Linked DNA regions of Homo sapiens. The protein of the gene in region 1 interacts with the protein of each later gene in a pairwise test. Each region holds a gene or a part of one and is shown in the gene's direction. Other genes may lie near its edges.

What was found. The genes of interacting proteins can lie anywhere in the genome.
Region 2: the proteins of LHX8 (region 1) and NUTM1 interact in binary tests that used the Homo sapiens proteins (3 or more experiments, as listed by UniProt).

What each region holds. Positions count from the first base shown.
Region 1 is NC_000001.11:75,143,301-75,148,713, forward strand, and holds part of LHX8 (LIM/homeobox protein Lhx8), read left to right. Parts: coding exon 1-38; intron 39-544; coding exon 545-648; intron 649-5,286; coding exon 5,287-5,382; intron 5,383-5,413. UniProt on the Homo sapiens protein: Transcription factor involved in differentiation of certain neurons and mesenchymal cells.
Region 2 is NC_000015.10:34,349,815-34,353,314, forward strand, and holds part of NUTM1 (NUT family member 1), read left to right. Parts: intron 1-889; coding exon 890-1,018; intron 1,019-3,500. UniProt on the Homo sapiens protein: Plays a role in the regulation of proliferation. Regulates TERT expression by modulating SP1 binding to TERT promoter binding sites.

The sequences.
Region 1 (5,413 bases):
CTGCATGCTGGATAATTTAAAAAGAGAAGTAGAAAATGGTAAATATGTACTTAAATACTTTTGAGTCTTTTGAGACAGTGAATACAGGAATAAAAATAACTTTTCCTAAGGTCATCTTAATGCATTATTTTGTACAATGTATAAGTGTGGTAAAACTCATTAAGTACTCTACTGTTTGTGATGGTCTCTATTTGTTTATTTACAAGGAAAGCCATGGTGTATGTATTAGTTTTGTGCCATATTCTCAGGCAGCAGCTTTGAGTTAGGGTTTTGCTTTTCTTTTTGTAAATAGTTGTTTTCCTGTATTTGCTGGGCCTTAGATGTGTACTTCTAACTTTTTGAACTTTTCACTAAATATACAAGTCTGTAAGTGGAATATTTTTTGTACAGTATATCTGTAGTATGTTTTAAAACTTAAGGGGTTTTGCCGTCTAGAAAACATATACAGTTACACAAAAAGCCAAGAGATATAAGAAACCTGTTATTGTAAGATGGGTGTACCCATTTGAATTACCAACATATATAGTGTGTTTTTTAAATGCAGGGAATGGGATTAGTGTGGAAGGTGCCCTCCTCACAGAGCAAGATGTTAACCATCCAAAACCAGCAAAAAGAGCTCGGACCAGCTTTACAGCAGATCAGCTTCAGGTAAGCATAACAATGAATTTTTTATTTTTGAAGCCCCTCCCAACCAAAAAAACAAAAAGTAACCTCCATGCTGCCCAAAAACATTTTTATGTTTTCTAAAAAATTAGCCTATGTGTTTTATGAAAACTAATTTGGTGAATATATGAAAACATACTTATTGCCCTAAAGTGTTTGCATTTCTAGCATCATAATATAATATGAAATAGTCATTCAAGTTTTGTTTCCCTGGGGTCTATTGGTATCAACATCAAAGTGGAAACAAAGTATTTTGTCCTGACTTCCTGATTGCATCGTTCTGAACCAGGCATTTATATTACTACACATAATTGCAATGGAAGACAAAATATTTTGAGACTCTGAAGAGAGACATACATGTCCCATGTGAGTCTATGGGACGCTAATGTGTTAGTCTTTGTAACAAACTGCAATGAGTCATTTAATGAACACAATTGTACAGTTTTTGAGTAGGAAATAATTGAAAGTGCCTTAAAGTAAATAGGAAACTACTGGTTGACTACAATTGAGCAGATTCCTTTATGTTTTTAAAGGTGGTAAAGGGAGTACTTCTATAATTTGATATTAAAGTTTTATTATGTCCCCTGAAAAGGGAGGGATTTTTTTTAGCTTAGTTGCCCTAAACATGATTGTTATAAATTTGATTTATACAAATTATCAAAATAATTAAATTACTCTTTGCTTTATAAACCTATATAATGATTCCTTCTGGCATTTTTGCAGATAATGAAATCATATTTTCTAAAAGATTAATGTGGCTGAGGTATTTGTTTCATGTTAAGGAAAAGTAACATTTGTTGAACGCCTATCACACTGCTGGGTACCTTATACATAGTATCCATCTTAGCTCAGACTTTAAAGGACATTTATGCAGTGTTAACAAATGAATAAAAGTAACTTTTTCGAAAATCACGTTTAGTATTCTAAGACCTGCCAGTATTTAAGATGGATACAAGTGTTTCAGGAGATAATTTTTATTTTGAGAATGATTTAGAAAAGAAACCTTGATGTGACACACATATTCCAAGGGAACGTGGCAATGGGAAGCACTCTAGCATTAAAATCTAGATCCATTCAGAAGAATTTTCCAAATGGATGATTGTTTCAGATTTCTTAATTTAGGCATAAATTCGATTTCTTAATTTAGGCATAAAGTACATAGTCAATAAGCAAAAAATGAAAGATAAGCCAATTGAAAGAAATATCTCTGTTTGAGCCTTGCTTTCTGGGTTCTTCATTGGATTATTATGAAGATCACACAATGCCCTGTCAGAAGATGTGAGTACTTCTGAAAGACCTGGAAAAATACTCAGTCACTAAAGGTGTCTAGTTAAAATAGAATCTCTAATATAAATCTGTTTTCACAATGGTCTGTTCCCATGAAGGACTGGCTGTAATTTTAATAATTACAAGGTTGATAACTTTCATTTGATATAATAATTTATTATTAAAAATAAAATTGTGAAAATTTGAAACCACTGTAGATAGACACTTTTCTATGGGAAAATAATTACAAATACTAATTAAATAAAATGGGAATAATATTTGTGGAGGTCTTTTTATGCCAAATCCTATACCAGGCATTTATCTACTTTATCTCCTTTAACTTTTACAACAAACCTCATTCAAGAGTGCAGGAACTCCTCAAAGCAAACCACCAAGGGAGTGGTTGAGAAGAGATTTGGAACCTTCTCCTCAAACATCTGGTCTCTTCATTTTGCTTGATCTTCCAGGAGACCATGAGTGGAAGTCTGTCTTATCAAAACTCCAATTAATAGCAGCAGCAGCTAAAACAAAAGAGTGAGATTTTGAATCTTGTAGATAGCCTTATGGTTAAACATGCATAAAATATTTAAGCCTTACATTATGGTATGTAAATGTGATCTAAATCATAAGTTTTAAAAATTGTATATCAGAATTATAGGTTTTAAAAAATGAAAGCATATTACCATTTTCAGATTACTGATGAAAGCATAGGTAATATGCTTTCAAAGTATATTCTCATTCAATATTTATTAGCATTTTATCTTATGGAAGGGGTGGCTGAAACAAATGAGATACAATCTTTGTCCTAAAGTGGTTCTTTATAATTTAGGAATCTGAAATAGATATTTTAAAAAACTGAATCATTTATTTTAGCCAGACACTCTAATAAATCGGTATCCTTATTGTCAAACTCTCCTACATTTAGGAATGCTGAATATTTTCAACTAGAGCTTGAATTTGGCAAGATAATAAAATATTACATGTGACCAGTGAGTAAGTCAAGACTATCTAGTCAGTACCTGCTTTGGACAGAGGAGAGTTAAAATGGAAGGGATAAATAAGAAAATTTTCCAAAATTATTCTATAGAGATTTATGGGGAGAAAAAATAGTTTAAGACTCAGAGGATGTATTGGCAAATATATTTCAAATACCGTCCCATTTGTAGAAATGATATTTAAGAATTTCCTGCTAATATTATGGATTGCTTATTCTATGTAGAAGCACTCACTTAGTGATTATTAATATTAAACACGCCAAAGTTAGCTCCTGCTTTAGTCTGTTTTCAGATCGAGTTACTGCTATGCAGCCTCCTGACTTTTCTGGTAGATCTCCTGGCCTAAAAATGATGAGTGTCTACAGAGGCTCACTCCTTGTCCACGTTAGAAGAACTTGGAAAAGGAGTGAAGTAGGCTTCAGCAGCATTAGTGCCTAGAGAATAGTGAAACTAAGTAGAAATTAAAAGTACCTCTTTTTTCTTTTTGTGTGTGTGAGACTAATCATTGATACTATTGAAAGGAAGAACAATCAACTCATCTTACTTTTCCTTTAGAATATTTCAATTCTAAATGATCAGAGTTGTTTTGCTTTACTCTTTAATGAGAAATTACTTAACTAAATACAATTTGATTGCAGTTAAATTTGTGAATTTAAAAATGCATTTATGAAAGGCATGAAGTTTCTGTTTTGTAAATTATTAATAATGACCTTACAAAATCCCCAAATCTGTTCAACATTTTTCTATTTGAAAAATTAAAAAACAAAGACATAATTTGCTCGTTCTTTTTGGGGTTATTACATGTTCAACTGCATAGAAACATAACTCTATTTTCACAGGAAGATACCAAAGTAACACATTTGGAGTAGGAAAGAAAGAATAAAGTGAACTGAGCAAGAATAAACTTTTAAGCCAATTCTGCCCTTTTTTAAAAGCAAAAATCCATGTTCTGTTTACAGTGAGTCTGTAGATACAATATAGTTAGATGGGAAGCCAAGAATACTTAATTCTAGAAGGGTAAATTTGTAAATCTCAAAATTTGTAAACCTCAGAAGGTTTCCCAGAACAATATTGGCCTTTTTTTCTACACTGTCTTCAGATTTTCCTTACATTGCCAAGTTTTACTCTGTCAGAAACTCTTAACATACTCTCTGACAGAAAGGGAGTTTAACTCCTAGGGATACGAAAAATAAGACATTCCCCTTGATCTCAAGGAACTCACTTTCCACTATGGAGATAAACTTGAAAACAAATTATTTAGCTACCCTGTGACAAGTGCAGTGGCAGAAGATAGCATTATATGAGGAGCATAGTGGAGAATGCAATTAATTTTGCCTGCTGAAAAGAGTGAAGTCCAGCAGTGCTTGAGGTCTTTAATAGATTGGTTACCCACATCCTATGCCTGTAGACAAGCACAATCACATTGGGTGCCAAGCTCTTCTCTCTCATTCTTCATAATAATACATTTTTTACATTTTGTAATGCTTCCCTCAGTTGACTGACTTTTAGTAATAAAATTCAAGTATCTCACTTAATTCTCATAATGATTCTCTTTTCTGAAAGAATTCAAAGTTTTTGGCTTGTGCTTATATTCTGGTACTCTCTCCCACACTACTCTTCTCCCTTTATCTTTTATTATAGGTAGTCATTGGCATGTCGGCATCTTTCTGCCAGGAAATTAAATCCAAAGAGTTTTGTTTCATGTTTCACTATCTCTTAGCACTTGGCATAGTGGTTTCAATCCAAAGGCTTACATCAGAATCACCTGTAAGCTTTTAAAATATATACATGTTTAGACTCTGGTAAATTCTTATTCAGTGGACTGGTGAGTGTCTCTTTTTAGACACCTTTTTTTTTGCATAGAGCTAGTGCTCAAAACTATGATGGAGTTGTTACAATTAAGTGGAATCCTTCTGTTGATCTGTATACTATTAGGTATTAGGGGCCTTGAACATCTTTAGCTCAGGAAAGGTTGGAGACAAATGTGATATGATTTTTGTATTAAGTTTTCAAATGTTGGCAGTTTTTAACAAAATGGAAAAAACAATAAATGAAACTCTTGCTATTTGATTTGTGGGTTATAAGATTGAAAGAAAAGAAAAGGTGAGCTTATTTTTAACAGCATAGTTGAGAGAGTTTTACATTGAAATGGATTTTTTTAAAGTTCTCAGCATAGCAACTTGTGTATAAATTTACAAAATATGCATTCGTTTTCACTTACCCATATTTCCCCATACCGATTTTCAAGTAACAAAAGTATCCCATGTTCTTGTGCATGTCTTACCTCTTATGATAAAAATGCAGGAAGAAGACTGAGCTGCTTGTTTTTAGCTATTTACTACATACATGTTTTAAACAACAGGTTATGCAAGCACAATTTGCTCAGGACAACAACCCAGATGCACAGACACTCCAGAAATTGGCAGAAAGGACAGGCTTGAGCAGACGTGTGATACAGGTGATTACTTTACTTTTTTTTTTTTTTAAGG
Region 2 (3,500 bases), on another chromosome or scaffold:
GATCTGAGTTCGCTCTTGGAGCCTAGCAGGCTAAATTTCAAAATCTTGAACCAATGTGGGCTCTCAAGGTTTGCATGGGATCCATTTGCTTTGGGTCCTGGTCTGCTTGTGCTTCACACTCAGGGGCTCTGGGCAGGGTCTTCCACAAGAGGCAGTCCAGACCACTGCAACATGGGAAGCTCCTAAAATGCTCAGTTGTGGGATCCTGGGGAGCTGCAAGTTGATTATAACGAGCTTCCCCAAGCGATTCTGATGCCCAATAATGTCTGAGGACTCCAAGGGAGTCAGAGAGACAAAAATGAAGCCCTTGCTTTAGGCTGGGCTCTTGATTTCTTCTGGATTAGGAAGGGCTCAAGAGCCCTCTAGAAGTGGGGGTCTAGTACTGGCATTTAACTGTCTGTGGGGAATATCTGGAAACAAAGACTGAAAAACCAATAAATAAAAACACCACATGACCTTTAATTAGAGATTCCTTTGGGTTAGCAAATGCCTTTAAAGAAAAAATGCAAGAGCCTTTGGACAAGGTTAAACATACTTTATAGCAAATCCCATTCATTTAATAACGCGAGTCCTCCCTTTCTAATAATTAATTGAGGATGGCACTGTGATAATTAGGGGTGGTAGTTGCCATTGATTTTAAAAGGTGGGGAGAAGAATTGTCTGTTTGATTTTATATTAGTTGTAAAGTTCAACAGGAAGAGGGGCGAGTATGGTAGATGAATGGATGGGAGGTTGAGCGTCTGTAAGTCTAATCAGAAGTGGGACACGACAGGCCCTAAGGGGCACAATAGATTTGATGAGGGGCAGGGGATGTGTTATTGATGTAGGTGTCAGGGCAGGTGGATGGGAGCACACTTTTAGAATGTGACTGACTCAATGGGGGTTTTAGCCCAGTGCTTCGTTCCCTGGCCCGGCTGAAGCCCACTATGACCCTGGAGGAGGGACTGCCATTGGCTGTGCAGGAGTGGGAGCACACCAGCAACTTTGACCGGATGATCTTTTATGAGATGGCAGAAAGGTGAGTTCGATGAACCTTCATTCTCCTGAGGGAGGCTGTGTGGCTGAGAGCAGTAAGGGCCGCAGAGAGACTTGTGTGGGGGTGATTATCAAAAGCCATGTTAGGATGGGGCGCAGCGGCTCACGCCTGTAATCCCACCACTTTGGGAGGCCAAGGCCGGTGGATCACCTGAGGTCAGGAGTTCGAGAACAGCCTGGCCAACATGGCGAAACCCTGTCTCTACTAAAAAAAAAAAAAATACAAAAATTAGCCGGGCATGGTGGCATGTGCCTGTAGTCCCAGCTACTCAGGAGGCTGAGGCAGGAGAATCGTTTGAACCTGGGAGGTGGAGGTTGCTGTGAGCCAAGATCATGCCTCTGCACTCCAGCATGGGTGACAGAGCAAGACTCCATCTCAAAAAAAAAAAAAAAAAAAAAAAAAAAAAAAAAAAAAGGGATGTTAGGCTGGGTGTGTGCTTGTAGTCCCAGCTACTCTAGAGGCTAAGGTGGGAGGATGGTTTGGGTTCAGTAGTTCAAGACCAGCCTGGACAACATAGCAAGACCTCATCACAAAAAAAAAAAAAAGAAAAGAAAAGAAAAAAAGGGACGGGAGGAGGGGTGTAGACTAGGATGGCAGTTTCCTGGATCCTTGCTTCTTCTTCCACCACCTTGACTCTTGGGTTTTTCTATCCTGTTTCCTCTTGAAAGCTCCCCCCTCACCAGATCCTGAATCTGTATAGGAGCCTTGATATTGTAGGTCTTAGGATGGGATTGGAGATTGGACCCCGATAGATATAGAAATTTCATGCTGAAGGGACCTAGCAATGAGGAGGTGTGCTCTACCAGGCAGGTTCTTTTCTCTTCTCATTGACTTGGTAGCAAGTGGCTATTGATACAGAACTTCAGGACCACTCCTCCATTGGAAATAGTGGCACAGAAAATCCCTTTCCGCCTTTATCCCAGGGAGGGGGCTGGTTCTGGAAGAGCCGGGGAAAGCCAGTGTCCTGGATGCCCAAAGTTGTCTCCTGGCTCTTCTTCTATTTCTCTATAATATCTTTGATTAAAAAAAAAAAAAAAAGGCTAGGCGTGGTGGCTCCGCCTGTAATCCCAGCACTTTGGGAGGCCGAGGCAGGCAGATCACCTGAGGTCGGGAGTTCGAGACCAGCCTGACTAACATGGAGAAACCCCCATCTCTACTAAAAATACAAAATTAGCCAGGCATGGTGGCGCATGCCTGTAATCCCAGCTACTCAGGAGGCTGAGGCAGGAGAATCGCTTGAACCCAGGAGGCAGAGGTTGCGGTGAGCCGAGATTGTGCCATTGCACTCCAGCCTCGGCAACAAGAGCGAAACTCTGTCTCAAAAAAAGAAAGAAAGAAAGAAAAAACTCAGAAAAATGAACAGATTCTTCCAAGCTTAGCTTCCACTTACTCCCTCCCAAAACCTTTTGGACCCATGCTTCCTAGACTTACCTTTCCAAGAATCCCATCCCAGTCTCAGGACTCTGGGATCTCACATTGTTTCCTGGTAGGAACTGCCTTGAATTCTTTGTGGTTGTAGGCAGGGGCAAATGAGGTCTTGAGGAGGATCCCACTGTGAGATCCCACCAGGCTGTTGCATAGGCCTGATTAAGTTAAACAAGCCTATATTGAGCACTGCTGTGTACAATCCATGAAGCTGGGTGAGATAGGTACGGAAAACAAGTGAGGCCGGGCACATTGGCTCACACCTGTAATCCCAGCATTTTGGGAGGGTGAGGCGGGCGGATCATGAAGTCAGGAGATTGAGACCATTCTGGCTAACACGGTGAAACCCCGTCTCTACTAAAAATACAAAAAAAAAAAAAAAAAGCCAGGCGTGGTGGCACGCACCTGTAGTCCCAGCTACTCAGGAGACTGAGGCAGGAGAATCACTTGAACCCGGGAGGCAGAGGTTGCAGTGAGCCGAGATTGGGCCACTGCACTTCATCCTGGGCGACAGAGTGAGACTCTGTCTCAAAAACAAAAACAAGTACTGAAAGCCCTCACTGTGTCCAAGAGAAGTTTACAAGCTCTAGATCATTCTTAACTTTTTTTTTTTTTTTTTTTTTTTTTTGAGACAAAGTCTCACACTGTTGCCTGGGCTGGAGTGCAATGGCACGATCTCGGCTCACTGCAACCTCTGCCTCCTGGGTTCAAGTGATTCTCCTGCCTAAGCCTCCCGAGTAGCTGGGATTACAGGCACCCACCACCACATCAGGCTAATTTTGTGCATTTTTAGTAGAGACGGGGTTTCACTATGTTGGCCAGGCTGGTCTCGAACTCCTGACCTCATGATCCGCCCGCCTCAGCCTCCCAAAGTGCTGGGGTTACAGGCGTGAGCCACTGCGCCTGGCCTCATTCTTTACTTTTTAAAAATTTTCTTGAGGCAGGATCTCACTCTGTTGCCCAGGCTGGAGTGCAGTGGCACTGTCATGGCTCACTGCAGCCTTCACCTCTTGAGCTCAAGCGATCCTCCCACCTCAGC